Homo sapiens: one gene and its partners. The gene in region 5 interacts genetically with the main gene of each other region. Each region holds a gene or a part of one and is shown on either strand. Other genes may lie near its edges. The genes, in order: ZNF507, PPFIA3, HAVCR2, REPS1, PTP4A3, GARIN1B and RAB21.

What was found.
Region 1: changes in PTP4A3 (region 5) and ZNF507 together harm fitness less than expected from each alone (positive genetic interaction), as found in Homo sapiens cells (one study listed by BioGRID).
Region 2: changes in PTP4A3 (region 5) and PPFIA3 together harm fitness less than expected from each alone (positive genetic interaction), as found in Homo sapiens cells (one study listed by BioGRID).
Region 3: changes in PTP4A3 (region 5) and HAVCR2 together harm fitness less than expected from each alone (positive genetic interaction), as found in Homo sapiens cells (one study listed by BioGRID).
Region 4: changes in PTP4A3 (region 5) and REPS1 together harm fitness less than expected from each alone (positive genetic interaction), as found in Homo sapiens cells (one study listed by BioGRID).
Region 6: changes in PTP4A3 (region 5) and GARIN1B together harm fitness less than expected from each alone (positive genetic interaction), as found in Homo sapiens cells (one study listed by BioGRID).
Region 7: changes in PTP4A3 (region 5) and RAB21 together harm fitness less than expected from each alone (positive genetic interaction), as found in Homo sapiens cells (one study listed by BioGRID).

Annotation. Positions count from the first base shown.
Region 1 is NC_000019.10:32,348,610-32,352,109, forward strand, and holds part of ZNF507 (zinc finger protein 507), read left to right. Parts: intron 1-504; exon of another isoform or gene 505-744; intron 745-3,500. UniProt on the Homo sapiens protein: May be involved in transcriptional regulation.
Region 2 is NC_000019.10:49,129,544-49,133,043, reverse strand, and holds part of PPFIA3 (liprin-alpha-3), read right to left. Parts: intron 3,052-3,500; coding exon 2,977-3,051; intron 2,667-2,976; coding exon 2,445-2,666; intron 44-2,444; coding exon 1-43. UniProt on the Homo sapiens protein: May regulate the disassembly of focal adhesions. May localize receptor-like tyrosine phosphatases type 2A at specific sites on the plasma membrane, possibly regulating their interaction with the extracellular environment and their association with substrates.
Region 3 is NC_000005.10:157,092,045-157,095,544, reverse strand, and holds part of HAVCR2 (hepatitis A virus cellular receptor 2 precursor), read left to right. Parts: intron 1-85; coding exon 86-239; intron 240-3,500. UniProt on the Homo sapiens protein: Cell surface receptor implicated in modulating innate and adaptive immune responses. Generally accepted to have an inhibiting function.
Region 4 is NC_000006.12:138,978,254-138,981,753, reverse strand, and holds part of REPS1 (ralBP1-associated Eps domain-containing protein 1), read left to right. Parts: intron 1-3,500. UniProt on the Homo sapiens protein: May coordinate the cellular actions of activated EGF receptors and Ral-GTPases.
Region 5 is NC_000008.11:141,419,521-141,423,020, forward strand, and holds part of PTP4A3 (protein tyrosine phosphatase type IVA 3), read left to right. Parts: exon of another isoform or gene 1-1,867; 5' UTR 1,868-2,720; coding exon 2,721-2,825; intron 2,826-3,500. UniProt on the Homo sapiens protein: Protein tyrosine phosphatase which stimulates progression from G1 into S phase during mitosis. Enhances cell proliferation, cell motility and invasive activity, and promotes cancer metastasis.
Region 6 is NC_000007.14:128,714,068-128,718,190, forward strand, and holds the start of GARIN1B (Golgi-associated RAB2 interactor protein 1B), read left to right. Parts: upstream 1-1,323; 5' UTR 1,324-1,374; coding exon 1,375-1,623; intron 1,624-1,632; exon of another isoform or gene 1,633-2,264; intron 2,265-2,745; coding exon 2,746-2,930; intron 2,931-4,123. UniProt on the Homo sapiens protein: RAB2B effector protein required for accurate acrosome formation and normal male fertility. In complex with RAB2A/RAB2B, seems to suppress excessive vesicle trafficking during acrosome formation.
Region 7 is NC_000012.12:71,792,863-71,796,362, forward strand, and holds part of RAB21 (ras-related protein Rab-21), read left to right. Parts: 3' UTR 1-3,500. UniProt on the Homo sapiens protein: The small GTPases Rab are key regulators of intracellular membrane trafficking, from the formation of transport vesicles to their fusion with membranes.

The DNA of each region.
Region 1 (3,500 bases), on a different chromosome or scaffold from region 5:
CAAGGAAAGATTTGAGAGAGTTGGTGGAAAGGGTTATAGAACTTTTCTGGTTTGGGATACAACTTTTGTTTATTACTTATTTATTGGTAACAATTTAATATATTTAATGTTGTTATGTCTAAACATTACAAACAAGAAATCTCCTGTTTTGCTAATGCCTGTCGTCTTCTTTCCTCCTGGTGAACTTTCCTATTCAGCCATATCGATCTTTTCACTCACCCCCAGATAGCATGCTTATTCTTACTTCTAAAAATATAGTCATGTCATGGCTGCTTTTCTGGTCACTGCTACCCTTGTGTCAACTTGTATCAGCAGTATTCCAAGGAAGCAAATGGCACGTTGAAATGAGGATAATTCAAGGAAGGTATATTTACAAAGATATTAGTAATAAAGGTGTTGGACTTCAATAAGCAAACCACAGCATAATGCAGTTATCTGGAGCTAGCAGCATTAGGAGAGGGAGAGGCATCAGAATCAGAAGAAGGGTCTTGGAGAGCAGCCTACCTGGAAAGAAATAGCCTTCTATTGAGGAACACAGCCAATCCAAGGTGACCTAGAGGTAGAGAACCAGGACGATGAATATTCTGATCTCACTCTGCTACCTCCCTCTGATCTGTCATGGTTCTTCATTGGCTGACCTCAACCAGAAGGCAGAGGACAGGGGAGCCTAGTGATGTAATCCCTCTGACAGAGAGCAGAATGGAAAGGAGGATACAGTGAGCCTAGAGGGCAAATGGATGATGTCTGGCATGCTGCCCATCCTTTGGGAACCAGTGGACATCTTACCTCTCCATGAAGCTTTTGCTTACCTTGCTAGCCCAAAAGAGCTCTTCAGTATCTTTCAGGATTTAGTCATTGACTGTTGCCTTTTATTTTACCTTGTGTACCATTGCGTTGTTTAAATGCTGTTACTTTTTAACTTCCAAATGTTTGCCTTATCCACTCAACTCAGTTTTAAACTGCAAGTATTAAGAATTTAAAATTTTTCCTGATACTTTGCCTTGCGCCTTGCACATAACAATTTGTTTGTTACACACACACACATATTTGTATTTCTGCATTAGTGGTCTAAATAAAATTTCTGTGATTTTAAGGAATCAAGAAAGTTGAAGGATTGGCCTTAAGGTAACTTCCCCTCTGTGTATACTTTATTATGATCTGTTTAGCCTTTTTATTATGAAAAATGTTAAACATTTACATAAGTAGAAAGAACAGTGAATTCCTAGGTACTCATCATGCAACTTCAATTACAGAATTAGTCATTCTTTCTTTATTCTCATCCTATCCACCCCACCACTGCAGTATCACCAAGGTAATTGTTTTAAAGCTGTGCTTACACTGATCTCTTGGAGGCCAAGGAGAGTATGCAGATTGTCATAGTTTATGTTGTCATCACTATTGAGCCACTGACATTGTATGTATACTCCTTATTTCATCTCTTTTGTTCAGATTTGCTTCACTTGACACACAATCTCATATATATGTATTTCTGCATTAGTGGTCTAAGTAACATTTTTGTGAAAATTGAAAGAGTTGGCCTTACAGTAACTTCCCCTCTGTGTATACTTTATTATCAGCTGTTTATCTAACCTTTTTTTTTTTTTTTTAACAGAGACTTGTTTTTATGAGATTAACCTGTGCATTGATTTTGCATGGGGACCCAAACTGGTTTTTCAGGTGTTTCCTGACGTATTTCATGTTGTCATATCTGTTTTATAGCTGCCATTACTGTACTTATCCCCAAATGTATGCAGCCTTTAAAATGAGATACTTACATAAATGTTCAGGGAAAATTGGAGCATCTGCTGCAAATTTCCATTAGCTCTTAATGCCTGAGCCGACACAGCTTTAAAAATCTGAATGTTTTGTCAGATTCTTTTGTATTAGTCTTTTTCTTGAGTTAAGATGAACTCCTCCTTCTCTTCATTTCACTTTCTTTTTAAGGTACACACTGAAATATCCACAGGGAGCAATTTGCACTGGTCTGTGTCACTTCTCTTATTAAGTAGAAGAAAGATAACATGAGTCACCTTTGTAACCCTACGGGTGTGCAAAGTCTCTTGAGCAAACATTCACTTGTTAACCTCCAGATGATCAGTCAGCCTACATGGGTGTTACATTTCATGGGGAAGGAGACCTTAGATCTACAGCAGAGAGCCGTATCGTGTTCAGGAGGATTCCTATTATTAAACTTATTATTTAATCAATTTGCATTTAACCATTGAACTGACAGACATAAGGCCTTAAGTTAATCACCTTAAAGGGAAATCAGTAGTCACATGAAGAGCCACAGCTCCTCTTGGCCTAAAAATGTGGAATTCTAAGACAATAAAGTGACTTAGGAAGTCACAAAAGGGTTTTTCTAAGGAAACAAATTGTTCCCCCATTGGTCTCCTCTTTAATGACTTACAGCTGAGCGTAGAGATCTAAAAAGACTTTTGTTCCTTCTACCTGAGAAAGATGAAACAGAACTAGTCTTTTGAGAGATTGTTTAAGGGAGAGTGGCTGAAGGACCACGGGCCTTTGGGAGCCAGGGTAGCTGTCATTGTTGGAATGGCCATGGAATGCATGTGAGGGCAGTTAGAGACAGCTAGTAGCCAAGAGAAAAAAAGCTGATGCCATAGGGCAGAGTATTATTAGGAAGAAGGGAAGAAATAGTACTGAAGAAGCCAAGAGTAAAGTGTTTGCATTTTTGCCTGATGTGGACCTAGATCTAGAAAGCTGGCTTGCCAGAAGGAGTAGAAAATCAGGAAGAAAAGCCATAGCTGCTGCCCAGAGTTGTGGGCGACCTGGCACTGAAGCTGGTCAGCTGTGTGTGTGTGTGTGTGTGTGTGTGTGTGTGTGTGTGTGTGTGTGTGTGTGGCGTGGGGGGGCGGGGCCTGTTTTTGTGTTTGTGTATATGTGTGTGTGTGTGGCGTGGGGGCGGGCGGGGCCTGGCAGGACATTAGGTATCATCTTGGCAGGGGCTGAAGGGCCCTTATATGTTGATTCAACCATGCGGGGAAGAACAGCCATGATTCACCACCTAAAATAAGAATTCAGAGCCTGGGACTGAAGTTTAAGAATAGTGTGGTCTTTGGTCTATAGCTAGTGCCACTAAAAATTTTGTTGGCATTTATTGAATGTTGTGAGTAAGATTCCAGAATGCACCTAAAATGTGGAAAAACAAAACTTGTTGCTGGAAAAAAGCCTAAACTTAAAAATGTGATCCAAGTCAACAAATTAATCTCACTTTAAGCCAAAGGAAATGTTTGAAATGAAAGTACTGCCAGGAAATAGAAAGAGTATTCTAGACTTAGGCAGAAAGATTTATGGGTATTTTATGTTTAGTGACTTCCTCAGCCATAATGCATTATTAGAACGAACAAATAACCTCTTCTAAGGACTCTGTTCATATCTGGAACTGAAACACAACTGGGATATCAATTTTTTCCTTCTCTGATGTCCCTTACCCTTTCAGGGAAAAAAAAAAAAACCATATATGTGGATATGAGTAATAG
Region 2 (3,500 bases), on a different chromosome or scaffold from region 5:
GTGTTGTAATCCGCTCCTCCATATCTTCCCGCTGCGCCAGCGCCTGCGGAGGTAGCAAAGGGCCCCGTGGACTGCGAGCCCCTGGGGGAGAGGACGGGGAACCCCCTTGTTCCCTGGGAAACAAAGTGCCCTGACATGGGAGTCAGAATGGTGGTGTCACACCCGCTAAGAGCTCCCAGGACTAGCCCATCTTAAGTCCCTGCCACCTACCTGCGAGTTAAAATGGTGATGCTACACCTCCCATGAGCTTCTAGGACACTGCAGGCTCAGATCCTCCAGGTTCAGAGGATCTGAGGCCTGTGGGATGTGAAGTCTCCACTCCAGCCCTCTCCTCAAAACCCAGGCCTTGGATTTCTCACTAATTTCTGGCATAGAGCAGACTTAGAATCAAACAGCAAGTGTCCTGGGGTCTCATGGGAAATAAGGATCCCTTCTACCTAGAAGGCAACACCTCTCAAGAGCTACCAGGGTACCAGAGGCCTAGAACCCCAAAAGAAGTGCTTCAACTTCTTATGGGAGATGGACCCTCATCTGGTAGCCCACGTGGTGGGGCTACATTTCCCAATAGCCCCTGCGGCTATCCAGGCTTAAAATCCCAGATGAAGGTTCTCTCTCTCTCTTTCTTTTTTTTTTTTTTTTTTTTTTTTTTTTTTGAGAGAGAGAGTCTTGCTCCGTCACCCAGGCTAGAGTGCAGTGGTGCGATCTCGGCTCACTGCAACCTCCACCTCCTGGGTTCAAACGATTCTCCTGCCTCAACCTCTCAAGTAGCTGGGATTACAGGCACCCGCTGCCATGCCTGGCTAATTTTTGTATTTTCAGTAGAGACGGGGGTTTCACGATGTTGGCCAGGCTAGTCTTGAACTCCTGACCTCAGGTGATGTGCCTGCCTTGGTCTCCCAAAGTGCTGGGATTACAGGCATGAGCAACCAGCACTCTGGCTGGAGTGCAGTGGTACGGATCTCGGCTTACTGCAACTTCCACCTCCCAAGCTCAAGTGATTCTTATGCCTCAACTTTTTTTTTTTTTTTTTTTTTGAGACGGAGTCTCGCTCTGTTGCCCGGGCTGGAGTGCAGTGGCACTATCTCGGCTCACTGCAAGCTCTGCCTCCCGGGTTCACGCCATTCTCCTGCCTCAGCCTCCCGAGTAGCTGGGACTACGGGCGCCCGACATCACGCCCGGCTAATTTTTTGTATTTTTAGTGGAGACGGGGTTTCACTGAGTTAGCCAGGATGGTCTTGATCTCCTGACCTCGTGATCCGCCCGCCTCGGCCTCCCAAAGTGCTGGGATTACAGGCGTGAACCACCGCACCTGGCATGCCTCAGCCTCTCTAGTGGCTGGGACTAAAGGCACCCACCACCACGCCCGGCTAATTTTTTTTTTAAGTAGTGACGGGGTCTCGCTATGTTGCCCAGGCTAGTCCTAGTGCTCACTCTTCTTTCTCATCCACTGCCTTCAAGAATCCAGGTCCACATTTCCCAGCAGCTCCCTGGGGTCACTGGGATTAGGATAAAGCGGCCTAAGCCAGAAAGGGGTGAAATACCCACAAAACATTCCATTTAGAGGCTGGACGCAGTGGCTCACACCTGTAATCCCAGCACTTTGGGCCGAGGCGAGCTGATCACTTGAGGTCAGGAGTTCGAGACCAGCCTGGCCAATATAGTGAAACCCCATTTCTACTGAAGATACAAAAAAAAAAAAAAAAAAAAATTAGCCAGGTGTGGTGGTGCACACCTGTAGTCCCAGCTACTAGGGAGGCTGAGGCAGGAGAATCGCTTGAACCTGGGAGGCAGAGGTTGCAGTGAGCCAAGATCCCGACACTGCACTCCAGCCTGGGCGACACAGCTAGACTCCATCTCAAAAAAAAAAAAAAAAAAAAAGAGGCTGGGTGCGGTGGCTCACTACTGTAATCCCAACACTTTGGGAGGCCGAGGTGGGCGGATCAAGAGTTCAAGACTAGCCTGGCCAACATAGTGAAACCCCATCTCTACTAAAAATACAAAAAAAAAAAAAAAAATTAGCGGTGCATGGTGGCAGGTGCCTGTAGTTCTAGCTACTTGGGAGGCTGAGGCAGGAGAATCTCTTGAACCCGGGAGGCAGAGGTGGCAGTAAGCCAAGATCACGCCACTGCACTCCAGCCTGGGCGACACAGCCAGACTCTGCCTCACAAAAGAAAAAAAAAATCCATTTAGAGGCACCAGAGAAGAACCCAAAGTTAGGTAACAAAGTAATTACGAGCAGTTATGGAGCGCCTACTCTGCGCCACAGGCTCACCCTCTGATGAGAATCATACATTTCCTTTCACAGGTGGGAAAACTGAATCTCAAAGAGGAGTCACCCAGCCTGTGGACTGAATCGAGGTTCCGCCATTCATGAGCAATGCGCGAGGGAGAGCTCTACGGAAAGGCGAGGGACCCAGGGCAGCCCGCCTCCCTGGGGGCCTCACCTCCTTGAGGTCGCGCTGCAGCTTGGAGTTGGCTTCCTCTGCCTTGCCCAGCTCACGGTGCGCGGTGCCCAACTCCTCCTCCAGCTGGCTCATCTGACGGCACAGCACCGCCAGGCGCTCCCGCAGCTGGCACACCTCGGCGCGCTGCCGCTCCAGGGCCTCCTCCAGCTCTGCTGTGCGCCGGTTGGAATCCCCGCCAGGACCCAGGCCATTGGCAAGAGTCTGGAGTGAGGGAAGGAGGGGACAAGATCCCAGAGTGTCTCCGGAGACACAGAGGAAATCCAAGGAGAAAGTCAATCAGCTGAAAGTAGATCAAAGATCAATAAGGATCATGCTGGTCAGAGTCCACGGGGGTCAGTGAAGGAGGTCACAGAAGTTCGCTAGGTGACCTGAATCAGAGGTCCAAGCTCTGTGACACTCTTACAGGTGCAGCCGTCTTAGGGCCAGTGAGGATGATACCAAACGTTACAAACACTATCACAAAGTCAGGGAGTTGAATGGAGCTCACGGAGAGGGGACTTCCATGTCTCACCTGCCCATCCCCATCCTTGCCCGGCTCTTCCAGCCCTGACCGCCGCCTAGACAGCTGTTCTCGAAGGTTCAGAGTCTGGAAGTGTGAAAGGGGAATCAGAGCACAGGGGCTCCCTGAACCCCCAGCTCTAGTTCTCACTGGCATTGGCCCTCTAAGGGGATAGGCGGCCCCATATGAGATGCCTCCGGTCGTGCTGGGGCCATGCCTACCCCACGGTTTACCCTTAGGCTCCCTCCCTCCTTATATCCCTCCTTAGCTGCCACCACGGAGGGCGTCTACCCTTACTCTTCCCCTTAGCCTCCTGGACAAAGTTTCCGCTTTAGCCCCGCTTTTCCCCATTCAATCACTTCCTCCTTAGTCCCAGCCTGAGCCCCAGCCCCTGGTTCTACCCTTAATCTCACTCTCACTGGGAGATTCTCCCCGTAGCCCTGCGCAATGCGTGCCCACTTAGGAACCCCACTGGTTTCTCTCCATAGTCCAACCCCATAGCTTGTCTGCCCTAGTCCTGCCCCAATAGATTCTCT
Region 3 (3,500 bases), on a different chromosome or scaffold from region 5:
GATGGTCCAATTCACAAATCTTGAAGCTGATTACACAAGCGATTTCTAGCTGTTTTCTGCTTAAATCCTGTTTGTGTTTCCATAGCAAATATCCACATTGGCCAATGAGTTACGGGACTCTAGATTGGCCAATGACTTACGGGACTCTGGAGCAACCATCAGAATAGGCATCTACATCGGAGCAGGGATCTGTGCTGGGCTGGCTCTGGCTCTTATCTTCGGCGCTTTAATTTTCAAATGTAAGTGTTTTTGTTTCTCTCTCCCTCTGATAACAAATTCTTCAGTGAGAACCAGTAAAAACCTAGATAGAAATGCAAATTCATGTTTATACCCAAAGATGATTAGACTAAATACCCTTTTGTCCATCCAAATCCTAACAATAATGGCTAATTTTTATTTAATATTTATTGTGTGTCAGGCAGCCACTGCGTTAAATGTTTTACATACATTTTATCATCATTACTGTCTTATGAGATAAGGAATAGTACCATCCCCATTTTACAGTGAAGGGAAGTCAAGCTTAGAGTAAGCTGCCTTCCCGAGGTTTCAACATCAGTACCTGGCAGAACCGGAAATCAAATCCAGGCAGGCTGATTCCAGTAAACTAATTTCTTTAATTCATGAATATGTCTAGGTTTGTTACGAAACACAACAACAAAAAACACTTCCTTCTGTGCACTTTTCTGTTATTGGTTTCTCAGGCATACCTCTCTGGCAGTAGACTGCAAGTCCCTTTAACACTGGGTCGTGACTGGGGTTAGAGAATGTTTTCCTCCATCATGGTACTTAGCACATAGCTTTTTCTAAGTTACTTATCCCTTTTTTTTTTTTAAACTAGCAAACAAACAAAAACAAAAAAACAGGCCCGGCGCAGTGGCTCACGCCTGTAATCCCAGCACTTTGGGAGGCTGAGGGGGGTGGATCATTTGAGGTCAGGAGTTCGAGACCAGCTTGGCCAACATGGTGAGACCCCATCTCTACTAAAAATACAAAATTAGCCGGGTGTGGTGGCGCATGCCTGTAATCCCAGCTACTCAGGAGGCTGAGGCAGAGGAATCACTCAAACCTGGTAGGTGGAGGTTACAGTGAGCTCAGATCATGCCACTGCACTCCAGCCTGGGTGACAGAGTGAGACTGTCTTAAAAAAAAAAGTAATAAAATATAAATAAATAAGCAAATAAATAAATAAATAAATACAATGGCCAGGTGCAGTGGCTCATGCCTGTATTTTCAACACTTTCGGAAGCTGAGGTGAGAGGATCAGTTGAGCCCAGGAGTTTGAGACCAAGATCAGCCTGGGCAGCAAAGCAGGATCCTGCCTCTACAACGTAATAATAATAATAATGAGCTGGGCATGGTGGCACACACCTGTAGTCCCATCTACTCAGGAGGCTGAGGTGGGAGGATCACTTGAGCTCAGGAGGCTGCAGTGAGCGGTGATTGCATCATTGCACTCCACCCTGGGCAACAGAATAAGACAGTCTCCAAAAAAAAAAAAAAAAAGAAGTGTGTTGAAGTTGATGAATTTTGATGGAGAATTACAGTAGGAAGCCATCATCACAATCAAGATCTAAATACTTCCAGTACCCCCAAAACCTCGCACACTTTTGTTTTTTTGGAGATGGACGCTGGAGTGCAGTGGCACGATCTCAGCTCACTGTAACCTCTGCCTCCCGGGTTCAAGTGTTTCTCCTGACTCAGCTTCCAGAGTAGCTGGGACTACAGGCATGTACCACCACGCCTGGCTAATTTTTATATTTTTAGTAGAGACAGGGTTTCACCATGTTGGGCAAGATGTTCTTGATCTCCTGACCTTGTGATCCGTCCACCTCGACCTCCCAATGTTTTGGGATTACAGGCGTGAGCCACTGTGCCTGGCCACTCACACACTTTTATAATTGTGTCTATTTTATTTTCTTTTAGGGCAGAAACCAAGTCCTTATGCCCCAGAGCGTAATATGACATAGCAGCCTTTCTTACTAATACACAAACAGGGACTGTGTGTGTAGAGTGAGCAATCACCTCAGATTAGCTCAAGACTAAAGGGTGTTCCTAAGATATATGGGACTTCTAGGGCTAAAACTGGAACAGTCCAAGAAAAACATGAGTTGGTCCCCCCACTAACTGTGGACTGAAGCTGCCAAGTGCTTTACGTGCATTAAATTCTCGTAACTACCCTATGAGATAGGTACTAATATGTTTCTAATGGAGAATCAGCATGCTAAAAGGTTAGGTCACTTGCCTGCATTTACACAGTTAATTGATAGATACTGGATTTGAAACCAGGACTGTCCTGCTCCTCATCTTTATGGTTTCTGCGATTATGGTTAAATGGATTATTCAGAAAAAGAAACTACCCCACCCACACTTACCTGGGTTTATTCAGAGATAGCCATGGAATTTTTGAATTGATCACATGAATATATATATATGTATATATATGTATACACATATATATATATATTTATTATTATTGGGACAGAGTCTTACTCTGTCACCTGGGAGCTGGACTACAGTGGTGTGATCTTGGCTCACTTCAACCTCTGCCTCCTGGGTTCAAGCAATTCTTGTGCCTCAGCCTCCCAAGTAGCTGAGATTACAGGCATATGCCACCACACCTGGCTAGTTTTTTTTTTTTTTTTTTTTTTTTTTTTTTTTTTTTTTTTGGTAGAGACAGGGTTTTGCCATGTTGCCCAGAAAATTGGTCTCAATCTCCTGAGCTCAGGTGATCCTCCTACTTCAGCCTCCCAAAGTGCTGGGATTACAGGCGTGATGAATATATACATATTTAAAAATAGAGGCTGAGCACGGTGGCTTACGCCTGTAATCCTAGCACTTTGGGAGGCCGAGGTGAGTGGATAACCTGAGGCTGGGAGTTTGAGACCAGCCTGACCAACGTGGAGAAACCTCATCTCTACTAAAAATACAAAATTAGCCGGGCATGGGGGCACATGCCTATAATTCCAGCTACTCGGGAAGCTGAGGTGGGAGAATCACTTGAGCCCAGGAGGCGGAGGTTGCAGTGAGCTGAGATCGTGCCATTGCACTCCAGCCTGGGCAACAAGAGTGAAACTCCATCTCAAAAAATAAATAAAATAAAATAAAATAAAAATAGAAATGAGATCTTGCTATGTTGCTCAAGCTGGTCTCAAACTCCTGGGCTTAAATAATCCTCCCACCTCAGCCTCCCAAAATGTTGGGATTATAGGCATGAGTCATTGCACTTAGCCTCACTTGAGTATTTCCAAAACAGACTAGGGATTGTTAAGGAGCACTGATAACACTCACTACTTTTTTGACTTCTGCCATGGCTCAAAGTAAAACTTTGAGCTTTACTATTATATATATTAGAGACCACTTTATATATATATGTGTGTGTGTATATATATATATATATATATATATAATATGACCATAATTTATACATATTAGCACTTATTCTAGTTTGTATAAAGAGTGATGGGATCTAGAGGAAATCTGATGCTTTGTACACACACATA
Region 4 (3,500 bases), on a different chromosome or scaffold from region 5:
AACAAATCACAGAATGTCTGATATAGCTATGGGATTGGGTTTTCATGATTTCTGACTCAAATGAGAGTATCTTTGTGTAGGAGCGGCTAATCTATTCCAGCCACACCCCTTTAAAAGTAGCACAAAGTCTTGTGGTTAGTTGCTCCACTATCTTGACACTGGAACAGGATTATTTGACATTCTTTGAGGAATACAAAGAGGAGATATATACAAGAGGAAACTGATGAAAGGGTCATAAATCCATGGGTGCTTAGTTCTTCAAGGTCGTGAGAATTTGAAATGGGTGATAAGACTTGTCATTTCTGATGTTTTCCCTTATATAGGTTTTATTTTCTGTAGCCTTTCCTATTATAGATGCATCTTCACTCATCTTTTCCCTCTGTGTAAGAAATTTGTCTAATGGAAGTTAAACTGTATACCAGATTTCATTGAGATTTGATAAATTCTAAGACTTAGGCTTTTTAAAATTAAGAATACTACATCTCTTCTGCATTTTGTTTCAAGAATTAGCCAGGTGTTGAATTTGGGGTCTGTCTCATTAAATAATGAAGACAGAATTTATTAGTCTGTCTCTTTTGGGCTGTTGATTCCGTTGAGATTCTGCTGCACGCACTGGACATCTGCTTAGAAAACATAGTTCCACAGAATTTTGCACTTAATTTGTGATTTCCAGCCTTCCCCTAATTGAGTCAAGCTCATCTTATGGACTTCTACATTAATTCAGTTTTAAGGAAGAGCAGGCTGACCTGTGAAATGCTAAACACTTCTGTCTTAAATCAGTTTTAAATACTTTCAACAAAGACTTCTTTGTGGCTGTTCTTTGTATTGGGGGTATACATGCAGTGGTGAAGGATCAAGACATCTTCTCTGACTTGTGCCAATGTCGAAAAGAAAAAGAACTGGCCAGGCGTGGTGGCCTGCACCTGTAGTCCCAGCTACTTGAGAGGCAGAGGCAGGAGGATCACTTGAGCCTGGGAAGTTGAGGCTGCAATGAGACATAGTAAACATAGTAGTGTCATTGCACTCCAGCCTGGGTGACAGAGCAAGTCTCCGTTCCCCCCCCCCCCCGCCCCACCCACAAAAAAAAAAGGAAAAAAGAACTGTGTACAATAATAGAGAATCATTGGGTGGTAGAATCAGAGGAGGTAGTGGGGACCTACTTAGGTGTAAGGGAAGGCCCCTTAGAGGATGCCTGGATGGGGGGTCAGGGGAGGGAGAATAAGGTGTTTCATATAGAGAGAACTGGGAAGGGCCTGAGGCTGTGAAGAGCACAGTGTGTTTAAGGAACTGAAACTGTGGACAAGAGGGGAGAATGGCAGGGACTGCATAAGGCAGGCCCTTGTACTCAGTGATAAGGAATTTGGATTTTAGTGGAAATATACTAAAAGTTTTTATTCGGGGGTGTAGCATCATCTGAATTATATTTTAAAAGATCATGCTGACTGCTGTATGAGCAAAAAGAATACTGGGGGCAAGTGGAAGCAGATACGCTAGTGGATATGCAACAGTCCAGGCAGCAGACAGCAATGGCTTAGATTAGCGAGGTGGCAGTAGGATAGAGAGCAGTGGACATCTGTGAGAATTTTTTAGGTGGTAGAAATACGAAGGCATAAATAGGGTTGGATATGGAACATAAGGGAGGGGAAAGAACTCAAGGATGTTGCTGGAAGTTGCCACTATTGGATGGTTGGAAGAGGAGTGGATTTTGGGGGGGATTGTTTCGTGGGAGAGGTAAGGGTGAATTCAGCAGTTCCCCTTTTGTCTATCTTAGTTCTCAGAAGCCTGTAAGATTGTCAAGTAGGCCTGTTAGAGAGATCTATACATCTTGAGGAATTCAGAGATACTTGGCTTAGAGATGTCAGTTTGAAGATTGTCACTATGTTAGTGATACTTAAGGTAATGAAATAATTGAAGAAAAGATTATAAAGAAGAGAGAAAGATTGACTAGAACTGGAATCCTGAGGAATGCTGAACATTTCTAAGTTGGGTAAACTGGAAGGCTTCTTGGAAGGACGCTAGGAAGCACACAATCAGAGTGGTACAAATTGGGAATGTGTAATATATAGTATTATCATGTCGTGGATGCCAAATAATGCAAGTATTTCAAGGGGGTGGGTAGTCAGCTGTATTGAATTTCACTGAGAGGCTGAGAACATGTGGGCAGGAATGTGGCCATTGGATTTGGCAACCTGGAAGTTATTAGTAACTTCAGTGAGCCAGTTTCATGGACTAGTGTAGATGGATGCCAGATTTGAGTGATTTGAGGGATAAATGATGGCTGAGGAACTAGAGACAGGGTGTATAGATAGCTTTTAAAGAAGTTTACCTATGAAAGGGAATAGATACAGGGTAGAAGCTAGAGATGTATGAGGATATAAAGGAAATCTTTTTGTTTGTTTCTTTTTGAGTGTGAGAAATTCTGCAGAATGATTTTAGTTGTTAGGATTGCTAAGATAAGGGAGATGAGAAGTCCTTGAGAAAGCAGGAGTGGTCAGGATCCTGACTGCACAGAGTCCTTTGATAGGAAGGGGATACTTCTTCAGTTTTTTTTTTTTGTTTTTTTTTTTTTTTTTGTGATGGATTCTCGCTCTGTCGCCCAGGCTGGAGTGCAATGGCCTGGTCTTGGCTCACTGCAACCTCCGCCTCCCGGGTTGAAGCGATTCTCCTGCCTCAGCCATCAGAGTTGCTGGGATTACAGGTGCCTACCACCACGCCTGGCTGATTTTTGTCTTCTTAGTAGAGACAGGGTTTCACCATGTTGGCCAGGCTGGTCTCGAACTGCTGATCTCGTGATCTGCCTGCCTTGGCCTCCCAAAGTGCTGGGATTACAGGCATGAGCCACCGTGCCCGGCCACTTCCTCAGTTTTAACAGTGGGGAAGAAAGAACAACATGGTTACAGACGCAAGTAGGAATATAGATTTAGTGGGTGGAATATAGATTTAGTGGGAGGATGTTCTGGCCTAATGGCTTTTATTTGTTTTCTACAAACTGAGGCAGGATTAACAGTGTAGTAGTAACATAAAATCTTAATATGAAAGTAAGAAAAAAATACATTCACATTAGCTTCAAAGAGGCCTAACATACTTGGGAATAAACTTAAGAAAAGAGTCACCAAGATTTTTGTATTTAAAACTACAAAACAGGGCTGGGCACAGTGACTTATGCCTGTAATCCTAGCACTTTGTGAGGTTGAGGCGGGCAGATCACTTGAGCCCGGGAGTTTGAGACCAGTCTGGGCAACATAGGGAGACCCCTGCCTGTAAAAAAAAAAGATAAAATAAATTAGCTGGGTATAGTGGTGTGCACCTGTGGTCCCAGCTACTTGGGAGGCTGAGGCAGGAGGATGGTTTAAGCCTGGGAGGCAGAGGTCAGGGAGGCAGAGGTCAGAGAGACCCGAGATTGCGCCAATGGACTCCAGCCTGGGCAACAGAGCCAGACCCTGTCTCAAAAAAAAAAAAAGAAAAGGAAAAGAAACAAATAATTGGGCTTTATTAAATAT
Region 5 (3,500 bases):
TATCCTTGTCTCCACCTTTACCTCCTTCTGGGGGTCCCACCCCACCACCGGTTTTTTTTTTTTTTTTTGAGACGGAGTTTTGCTCTTGTTGCCCAGGCTAGAGGGCAATGGAGCGATCTCGGCTCACTGCAACCTCTGCCTCCAGGGTTCAAGCGATTCTCCTGCCTCAGCCTCCCGAGTAGCTGGGATTACAGGCATGCACTTCCATGCCTGGCTCATTTTTTATTTTTTTATTTTTAGTAGAGATGGGGTTTCTCCATGTTGGTCAGGCTGGTCTTGAACTCCTGACCTCAGGTGATCCGCCCGCCTTGGCCTCCCAAAATGCTGGGATTACAGGAGTGAGCCACTGCGCCTGACACCCACCGCCCATTTTAACCTTCCCAGAACCATGCAGTGGACAGAGCCTGAGGTGTGGCGGCTGCTCTGAGCCCATGAGCACTGGCTGCCACCCAGGGTGTGGAGGGCAGGCAGGGAGGAGCCCACTGTCCCAGGTAGCCACCCTCTGAGTCCAGGGGCCCAGGCCTCAAGCCCTACCTGCACCTGGGCTGAAGCTCCAAGGGCCCAGCCTGCCTGGTGGGCAGCTGGGAAGGGGGTGCTGGGGCTGGGGCAGGGGCACAGGTGAGAGGGGGTGGGTTGGGGAATGGAGGGCTCTGCTGGGCGAGGGGCCCTGAAGTGCCTTTCCTTGGGTAGCAGGCAGTAGTGACAGGGCCGGGCTTGGGTTGAGTCTAGGGGGCTGGAGAGTCTGCTAACAGCTGGGTCACAGCCAGGGCCAGCAGTGCGGGGACCCCTCAGCAGCAGTGCCCAAATACAGCTTGGGTCACTTGTGTCACCCCTCATCGTGCTCATGGGGTAACAAAGAGGCCGGCACCTTGCTCAAGGCCTCCCAGCCCTTCCGTAGAGAGGGAAGGGGGCTGCGTGCTCCTGGAACCCCTTTGCCTGGGAGCTTTGGGGTCATGAGACCCAGAAAGGGAGAGAGGCAGGCGTGGAGGTGCCTTGGGTTGCTGTGGCCCCCCCTGCCGCCTCCCCTCTTCAGGGCCCTGTCATGGTGTGAACCCACTCCTGGCCACCTGTGCTGTCACCACCTTGGCATGTGTGCCTGATGGCTGGCCCATTGGCGTGTTCTGTCCCCGCCTCCCTGAGCTCCTGGAGGGGCAGAGCTGGCCTGTTTATCCCCGAGCCTGGCTGAGACCTGTGTGAGCAGTGGAGACACAGTGGCGGGGGGACACTGGTGGACAGGGGGCTGCTGACAGGCAGGAGACTTTCTGCAGAAAGCAAGAGGCGATTAGGGTGGCCCACGGCCGCGTGTGGGGCCAGGCCCCTCACCTCCCTGTGCTGGCAGCACTGACCGAGTGCCTGGGCCCCATTCCCTGAGGATGGGCCACCCAGAGACACCTGGGCTCAGATGTTCACAGTGGCTGAGAATCGGAAGAGGAGAGGGCAGCTGTCCTGGGGTGGAGTTTCCGCAGATCACAGCAGGTGGGCAGGGGCCAGGCTCAGGCTTCTTAGGAACTCGGCCTCTGTCCCCACAGAGGGATCTGTCATCTGTGTGCTGGGGTTCATCATGTCCTCGGGGGTGTGTGTGTCCCTGAAATCCCTGTCCCCTCTGTCCTCCGTCATGCCCTGCTGGCTGTGTGGTGGCTACCCTGTCGCCTCTGGGCCCTGGGTCAGTCCTGGCAGGAGCCGTGCTTCCTTGTGCTCCCATATAAGGAAATAGACCCAAAAGGGTCATTCTCTCAGCATGGTCAGGAGGAGGGCTCTGGGAGAGGTGTCGCCTGTGACTGTGGGCTCATGACAGGCATGAACCCCTTGTGGGAGGCGGGGCCCCCTGTGATCCCTTTCTATTCATTTCCTTCGTCTTTCCCCACAGATGCTGTGTGCTGTGGACCCACCTGGGGTTCATGGAGTGGGCCACGGGGCCCAGCCCTAAGCACTGCTGCGCCCAGGGTCGCCGCGCCTCCTGCTGAGGGGTCCCCGTGCCACTGGCTCTCACCATTGCCCTCGCCTGCCGATGGCCTCTGCTGCCCAGCCTGGGGCCAGCTCTACCGCCTGAGCCCCCTGCCCCACTCCAGGACTCACCGTACCCCGATGGGGTAACGTGACACAGGCCCCACACGTCAGAGGCCGCTGTCCCCACGGCCACTGCCCGTGACCCCTGGCCCAAGGCAGCTGGAGTTGGTTCAGTTCAAGTTCATTCTTCCTCTGGCCCTTGGGGGCTTGGGGCCCACCTCTGAGTGAAGGGGGCTGTCTGCCCATCCACCAATGTGGAGAGGGCGCCCCCGGTGTGGGGTCCAGCTCTGGACACTGCTTGGCGGCCGGGTTCACTTTGAGTTTTTAAGTTTTCTTTGCTGAGCTTTTTTGGTTGTTCTTTTTATTTTTTGCCTCTTTATGACTATCCAGCTCTGAGAGACGGGAGTTTGGAGTTGCCCGCTTTACTTTGGTTGGGTTGGGGGGGGCGGCGGGCTGTTTTGTTCCTTTTCTTTTTTAAGAGTTGGGTTTTCTTTTTTAATTATCCAAACAGTGGGCAGCTTCCTCCCCCACACCCAAGTATTTGCACAATATTTGTGCGGGGTATGGGGGTGGGTTTTTAAATCTCGTTTCTCTTGGACAAGCACAGGGATCTCGTTCTCCTCATTTTTTGGGGGTGTGTGGGGACTTCTCAGGTCGTGTCCCCAGCCTTCTCTGCAGTCCCTTCTGCCCTGCCGGGCCCGTCGGGAGGCGCCATGGCTCGGATGAACCGCCCGGCCCCGGTGGAGGTGAGCTACAAACACATGCGCTTCCTCATCACCCACAACCCCACCAACGCCACGCTCAGCACCTTCATTGAGGTGAGTGGAGACGGAGGTGTGGCAGGCAGGTGGCCCAGGTGTCTGGGAAGCCCGGCTGAGCTGCCCTCAGGCCTCGCAAGAGGGGTCCCCAGCCCCGGCTGGCCAGACAGGGCTCACAGCCTTGGAACAAAGCCCAGTCGCCTGTTACAGGATCCTGGAGGAGGGAGATGGGGGTGCCCCGGGGGTTGGGGTTGAGGGTGTTGGGGGATCAACGGGGTCCCCTGGGAGGCCTGCAGGGGGCTGGCGTGTGATAGGAGGGACTCCACGCTGTGTGGATAGAGGCAGGGGGTGAGGCAGGGGGATACATGGACCAGGCTGTGCGTGCTCAGCCGTGGCCTGGGCTGGGGCCCTCCCGAGCCCTTTGCTGTCCCAGATGTTGCTGGGCTCTGGATGAGGCCTCAGGTTAGACCAGGCTGGACTAGGGGCTTCAGGGCCCAGATCTCTGTGTGAGGAGGGACTGAGCAAGGGTCAGCGCTGACCACAGGAGGGAGGGACCACTGTGCCCTGGAGAGGCAGCAGAGATACCTGCCGCTGGCAACCCTGGCAGATGGGACGAGATGCGTTTACAGAAGCTTTCTTGGGAGTGGAGTCTGGAGCGACCTGCATGGCCTCCTGGAGGAGCCTGGCCTCTGCAGAACGCCCTGCTGTTTGCAGGCCTGGGGCCGTTTGCAGCGT
Region 6 (4,123 bases), on a different chromosome or scaffold from region 5:
ATAACAGGTGCTGGAGCAGGGGTGTGATCTGAATGACCAGAGGGAAGGACTGATGGAATTGGATGGTGAGAGCCTCCAGGCCCTTTAGGCTTCTCCCTGACTTTATAATGAAATACAAAAGTCAGCCTCCATGCTTGTCCTTTGTGTGTAATGATTGTCAAACTCTGTCTATATGTGTTACATTTGACCTTGATGGTTAATTCATTATGTAATAAGTTCAGAATTTGGGACAGACACAGTGGCTCATGCCTGTAATCCCAGCACTTTGGGAGGTCGAGGTGGGCGGATCATCTGAGGTCAGGAGTTCGAGACCAGCCTGACCAACATGGAGAAACCCTGTCTCTACTAAAAATACAAAAAATTAGCCAGGCGTGATGGCACATGCCTGTAATCCCAGCTACTCGGGAGGCTGAGGCAGGAGAATCGCTTGAACTCGGGAGGCAGAGGTTGTGGTGAGCCGAGATCGCGCACATTGTACTCCAGCCTGAGCAACAAGAGCGAGACTCCATCTCAAAAAAAAAAAAAATTTAGAATTTGGTCCAAATTAGAAAACAGTTTCTCCCAGGAATGGCCTTGAATAGTGGTCAGCCTGCTTGGTTCTTTCTTCCTGACCTAGCAGCCCATGATTTGGGCTCTTTCCTCCTCTGGTTCAGGGGTGAGGGATGCTGTCACTCTCCAAGAGGGGGAACAGCTTGGGACCTAGCAGAGCTGCTCATCGGGGTTCTATTCCTCCCAGCCAGCGCCCTGACAAAGCCAGCCTCTGGATAAGAAACTAATTACTTCTCCTGCTTCTTCAGTTTGACCTCCTAAGGGAAGTAAGTCCTGCAGAAGTAACCAGCCTGCCGCGGCAGAATGCAGAGCAGGCACCAACTGCCCTGCAACTGCTTCCATAACCTGCAGATCCACCAGGGTGTCGGGGGCCCACATGCTGCAAAGCTTAGGAAGATGGGGTTTTCAATGGACATGCAGCTTTTAAAGTTGTGTGAGATAGGTTGCATTCAGAGTAAGGAAGGGTTGAAAGGCAGGAAGGGCATTTTCCTCTTAGCAGTGGAAGGATCTTCCTGACAGCCCTCCTTGCTTGCTTTCTGCCTGGCTCACTGCTTTCTCAGCAAGTTCCGGGAGGACTATGTCCTGGGGTTCCGAAAAGGGCTGGGGAATGTCCAGGCACGGATAAGGCACACAAGCTCTCTGGAGGAAAAGGGAGGCTCCTTTGCACTTCCCCTTCCTGCAGGTCTGTCCTGGTTTTTCATGATGTCATCCATTCATCATTGTGAGCTGACTGGTGGTCCCAGGGCTTGGCCAGCTGCCCAAGGCCAGGAGGGGAGACAGAGATCCCAGGACAAATGTGCAGCAGGCCCCTGAGCATGTGTAGAAATGTTGTCATCATTTCCACATAGAAAGACTTGGAGGAAATCAAAGAAGACAGTAAAAGTCACAAGATCCTATCCAACCTTCCCTTCCCTGAATGCCTGGGAAGAATTCAGGGGCCTCTTGCCTGTGGATGGAGAGCCGAACCCTGGAGCGGGCCTAGGTGTGGAGGAGGGACTGCTCTGCCGGGTGGTTCATTCTCCAGAATTCAACCTGTTTCTTGACTCCGTGGTGTTTGAAAGCAACTTCATCCAGGTATTCTTGGGTGGCGCAGAATAGCACTCTTTGATTCTTCGAAACCTGTTCCCAAGATATGACTGAGAGAGTCCATCCCTGAAACTGGGGCAGAGTGAGAATTGAGGCAAGGAGAAGCTAGTGGACCTGGAATGCAAGGCCACCCTCACTGACCTGGGCTTTGCTGAGCCCCAGACGGGGCTTCTCCTACAGACAGCTGTCACCCAGGGAGAAAGGTCAGGGGTCCTCTGCTCTGAGTGGAGAATTTGGTATCTAATCCCCCAGTTTACTTCAGCCCCCAGGCTGTCACCTGAAGTAGATGAACAAAGAGGCAGTAAAAAGAGACGCTTCTTGAGAACAATAATGCGGATTGGCGAAAGAACAGCACCTGGGGTCCCAGAGACAGCTGGGCTCAGATTCCAGTCCTCTGCCTTCTCCTTGGGAGGTGACTGTGCAAGTAACCTGTGCAGCCTGAATCTGGCCCCTTGATTGTAAAAGGGTTGAACTGACCTGAGGATGAAATGCAAATACAGCAAGAAAAGTACCTTGTCTAACAGGCACTCGGTGCACGTTCGTCTCCTTGCCTGGGCTCTCCTCTGGTTGGATGGAAGCGAGAATGAACAGCACTTTGGAGTTAGAGAGGACCTTCCTGTTCAGTGAAGGTGCAGGAGATAATAGGGCACCTCGGGGAAGGACCAAGAGGATACATTTTTCAAAGAAGGCCAGGAAACAGTCCAGGGAGGATTGGCAGAAATGACAGATGGCAGGGAACTCCTGGGTTGTAATTCCTGTGGGCAATTGTTAACAAATGGGTGGTTGAAATATTGTTTAAATACTAGTAGTTGTTTAATCAATATAGTGGCTATCAACAAGAATTGATTTTTGGCCCCAACTGCCAGGGAACATTTGACGATGTCTGGAGACATTTTTTATTGTCACGATTTGGCTGGTAGTGCTACTAGAACTAGTAGGTAGAGGTCAAGGATGCTACTAAGCATTCTTTAGTGTGCAGGGCAGTATCCTACCCTCAACAAAGAATATCCAACCCAAAACATTAATAGTGTCGAGGTTGAGAAACCCTGGGCTGAAACAGACTGCAGCTTTTGCCAAATGCTCAGGTTGTGCCTGGGGGCTGTGTTGCAGGTCAAAAGGGGCAGGAATTGGAGAGACGTCTACAAAGCTTCCAACACCATGGCCCTGGGGGTGACCTCCTCGGTACCCTGCCTGCCCCTCCCCAACATCCTACTCATGGCCAGTGTCAAATGGCACCAGGGGCAGAACCAGACATGGAACAGACCATCCATAGCCCCCAACATCTTCCTGAAGAGGTGAGCAATGCAGATGAGAATGGAGGACAAGAGGGGTGAGGGGTGGATGCAAAGTGGAGGTTGCTTGACTACTAAACTCAAGGAGAAGATAGAGATGTCATCAGCAGTGACATTGATTTTTTTAGACAACAGAGTATCCTAAGACAGGTGTTGCACTGGAAGGACAGAGGCCAAGTGGGACAAAGGGAGATGTCATGTGGACAGGAGTCAGGGGCTAGTCTACCTGCCCACTTTCTTTCTCGCTGCACAGACGCCACTGAATTCATAGGAAATCTCTCAGCATTGGGCCCAAGGGCAAGGAGGCAGTGAGTCTGGCAGATGGAGCACTGGTTGGGGAAAGGAGATTATTTCTAGTTCTTGGTGTACAACTAACTGGACTCAATTTTTAAAATCACAAGTTATTTGCTGCTCCTCAGTTTTCTTTGTCTTTTTCTTTTTCTTTCTTTCTTTTTTTTTTTTTTTGAGACTGAGTCTCAAAAAAGACTATCGCCCAGGCTGGAGTACAATGGTGGGATCTTGGCTCACTGCAACCTCTGCCTCACAGGTTTAAGTGATTCTCCTGCCTCAGCCTCCCGAGTAGCTGGGATTATAGGTGCCTGCCACCACACCTGGATAATTTTTGTATTTTTAATAGAGACAGGGTTTCACCATGTTGGCCAGGCTGGTCTTGAACTCCTGACCTCAGGTGACCCACCCTCCTCAGCCTCCCAAAGTGCTGGGATTACGGGCGTGAGCCACTGTGCCCGGCCAGGTTTTTTTTGTTTTTTTTTTTTAATCAGTAAAATAAATGGGACTAAGTCTCACTTAGAGCTGTAGCATATAGTGACATCATGCTTGTCTGGGACGAAGTAGCCTTTTTAAATTTTGGGGCCTCTTTAAATAATCTGTAGGATATCTCAAGAATCTCTAGAAATTCCCAAAAGTCCAAGAAAACCCTTCATTTCTCCATGCTACCTCAGTGACACACCTCTCCATGATGTTCTTGGTGTACCTCTAGCAAGTACCACCCAGTCCCAGCTGACTAATATTAGATCCAAAGCCAGATCCTTGAACTTTAACTCCCTTGGGAAGACTAACTGTGGCATTAAACTCAATAAATGCACAAGCCAGACAGTGGGGCAAGCTCCTTTGGTGCTTTCAAGAAAGAAATTTTGGCTGGGCGCGGTGGCTCGTGCCTGTAATCCCAGCACTTT
Region 7 (3,500 bases), on a different chromosome or scaffold from region 5:
TGTTCACATTCTGTGTTTGATCAGATATGTACCTGCCAAACTTTTGGAGTGAGATAATTAGAATGACAGTAGTTGAAGCTGACAGTGAATTTGAGGTAAAGCTGGAAAGAATGTTTTTGAATTTTGCAAATAATACATTTTCAAGCCAGATTAAAATTGAATAACTTACTTTCTAGCTTCAAGGGGGTAATTAAGTGATCCTCTAACCCAAATTGCTTTTCCAAATTTTGTGGTAGCAGTGAATAAACTGATGCCTCCTGCTTATTTAGACAGCAGCCATTTTTGTTTGGTTTGGTTTGGTTTTGCGGTGATTTTTTTTAACCTAGAAAAAATACAATTTAAAAAGCAATCATGTTGTTTTCTTTGCCTTTGACAGATGTGGCCTTGTCACCACACAGTAAGCCAGAACACAATCCATTCCTGAGTCATAGTAGGATAGTTTGTGTAATTCTAAATGCACTCTCCAGTTTAAGAGTGTGGGTCCCTTTTTTTCTATCTGAAATTGAAGATACAGGTCAGAAAGATGGTTTAATGAATATGAATTTTCTAAACATCTTTTCAGTGTCTTTTAAGGATATTTTTGATATTACAATATAATAAAGTTAAATCATCTAGTCCTCCTGGCCCTTCTGGTTAGAAAATAGAGCGAAATCATCCGTTTAAACACACACACACAAACTATCCCATTAGTTGGTTATACACAAGTTACTTTCATTCTTACTAGTTCACAAAAGGTTAGTAAATTTAGTGATTTAATGAGTTCTTCAAAACATAAAAGTCCTGTAAAGGAAAAGCTAGAGGATGTGAGAGGAGTAATTCATCCCCATCAAAAGATTTTAGCCAAAAGTAGTGGCATAAGAAATTTATTTATGCGAAAGACATAATTTTGGGTGAACTTTCTTGAAGATGGTCAGAAAGGGCATTGTTAAAGGAAGGAGATGGTAGATTTTGGGTTCTGGGTTCTAGGTTCTAGGCTAATAATTTACTACTTTGGTATGTTGCCTTGAGGCTGACATTTGCTGCTCTGCTAAGACTAAAGCTGGCCCTTTCCAATCAAAAGTGTTAAAAGCTGGCTGGGAGCCATGGCTCATGCCTGTAATCCAGCACTTTGGGAGGCTGAGGTGGGTGGATGGATCCCTTAAACCCAGGAATTCAAGACCAGTGTAGACAACATGGCGAAACCCCATCTCTATCCAAAAATATACAAAAATTAGCCAGGTGTGGTGGTGTGTGCCTGTAGTCTCAGCTACTCAGGAGGCTGAGATGGGAGGATTGCTTGAGCCTGGGAGTTAGAGGATGCAATGAGCTGAGGTCGCACCACTGCACTCCAGCCTGGACGACAGAGTGAGGCCCTGTCTCAAAAAAAGAAAAAAGAAAAAAAAAAGTTAAAAGTTGTGGCATGGTGGCTCACGCCTGTAATCCCAGCACTTTTGGAGGCTAAGGCAGGTGGACCACCTGAGGTCAGGAGTTCGAGACCAGCCTGGCCAACATGGTGAAACCCTGTCTCTACTAAAAACAAAACAAAACAAAACCATATATATATTATATATATATATATATATATATTTTTTTTTTTTTTTTTTTTTTTTTTTTTGAGACGGAGTCTCGCTCTGTCCCAGGCCAGAGTGCAGTGGCGCTATCTCGGCTCACTGCAAGCTCCGGCTCCCGAGTTCACACCATTCTCCTGCCTCAGCCTCCCGAGTAGCTGGGACTACAGGCGCCCGCCACCACGCCTGGCTAATTTTTTGTATTTTTTTGGTAGAGATGGGGTTTCACCGTGTTAGCCAGGATGGTCTCTATCTCCTGACCTTGTTATCCGCCCGCCTCGGCCTCCCAAAGTGCTGGGATTACAAGCGTGAGCCACCGAGCCCAGCTATATTTATAAATTTATATATATTTCATATATATATTATATATATATAAAATTAACCGGGCATGGTAGTGAGCCCCTGTAATCCCAGCTACTTGGGAGGCTGAGGCAGGAGAATTGCTTGAACCCAGGAGACGGAGGTTGCAGTGAGCAGACCTGGTGCCACTGGACTCCAGCCTCGGTGACAGAGTGAGACTCTGTCTCAAAAAAAAAGTTAAAAGTTGTTAACTAGATGTCGAATTATTTTCATAGTAATCACCATGTGTAAGCAATTCTCATCTGTGGAATGTTTGACAGGGATAAGATTATTGAAAATTGGGGGGAATTTTCTTAAATATGGAACTAAGAGCTAAAGAGTTCAATGATGATTAAGACCACTAGTCTGGCAAGTGACTTTTATTTGTCCTTTTCTATTGATAATGAATTCTAGGAATATGGATGGATTTCATTAGAGAAATAAAAATGAGCAAGATTTGTGATTCAGAATATTAAAAGTTAAGAATCCATGAATAGCCCCTTAAAAATATTGTCAAAGCATCATGGTATTTGTAGTGGTGCTTAAAAAAGAAGCAGCAGCAGCTGTTCTAAGCCAAGCACTGCTTGAAAACAAAACAAAACAGAACAAAACCTTATATTTAATAAAATGGAGAAATTTGGGAATGTCCCTAGCGTAATAATGCCTTCTACTGACATTTAAAGTCAGCTTAAACATCATTAGGGAAGACTATGACTGTTTCTATGACCTCTAGTCACAAATTTAACTAATTTAAGGTTAACTAATACCTCTTTCAGAGTTGGGCAAAAGAAGAAAAAAAAAGCCTTTATTTGTGATCAGTAAATTATAAATTACACAGAAGCTTCCAGCTACCTGGTATTTGCATGAAGAATTCTAAATTTTTTATATGCCATAATTTTTAGTAATGCTGTCCTTGAATTCACTTACATCTCTGCTCTGGTTTTTTGAAGCTCATTAGGATGATACCTGTCATCTCTTGGAAACACTGGAACTAGAGAACTGGAGGTGTTCACCCCCATTTTTTGCTACATTGTTGAAAACTGAGTAGAATTTTGTGTCCAAAAATCCTTAGTCTGTGATGGAATTTTTTAAAGTATATGTGAAGTTTTTTACTTCTTCAGTTTTTCAAGATAATTTTGCTGTTTTTGCTTTTTATTTATTTGCAACTAGAAATTGCATGTGCCAGTTACTTAATTTAATACATCTAATGGGAGATTCAAAGCAAACCATTAAAACTACCATATAAACTCAAATGAAATTTTATGACATTCTAATGTACATACTCGCCAAGAAATGCTACAAGGAGCCTCTCTGCAAATGCCTGATGGGGCACTCTGAGAATTAAACAGGAAATGGACAGGAAAAGAGGCAAAGCATAGAATAGCCTCTGTGGTATACACACAGACAATGTAAAATCCAAGAAATATAAGGTCCAAGGAGGAATTGGTTATTGAAGTAGAGAACCTCATCATGAGATTTGAGAATAGCTTTAGAGTTACTCTTGGGATAGTGTCTCATGGCCCTGTGAGGGAACTCTACAAATTTTATCCATTTTGCTGGGCAGTTTTAAGAGCTACTTTTTGTCTGTACTTTCCTTAATTTTCATATTATTTC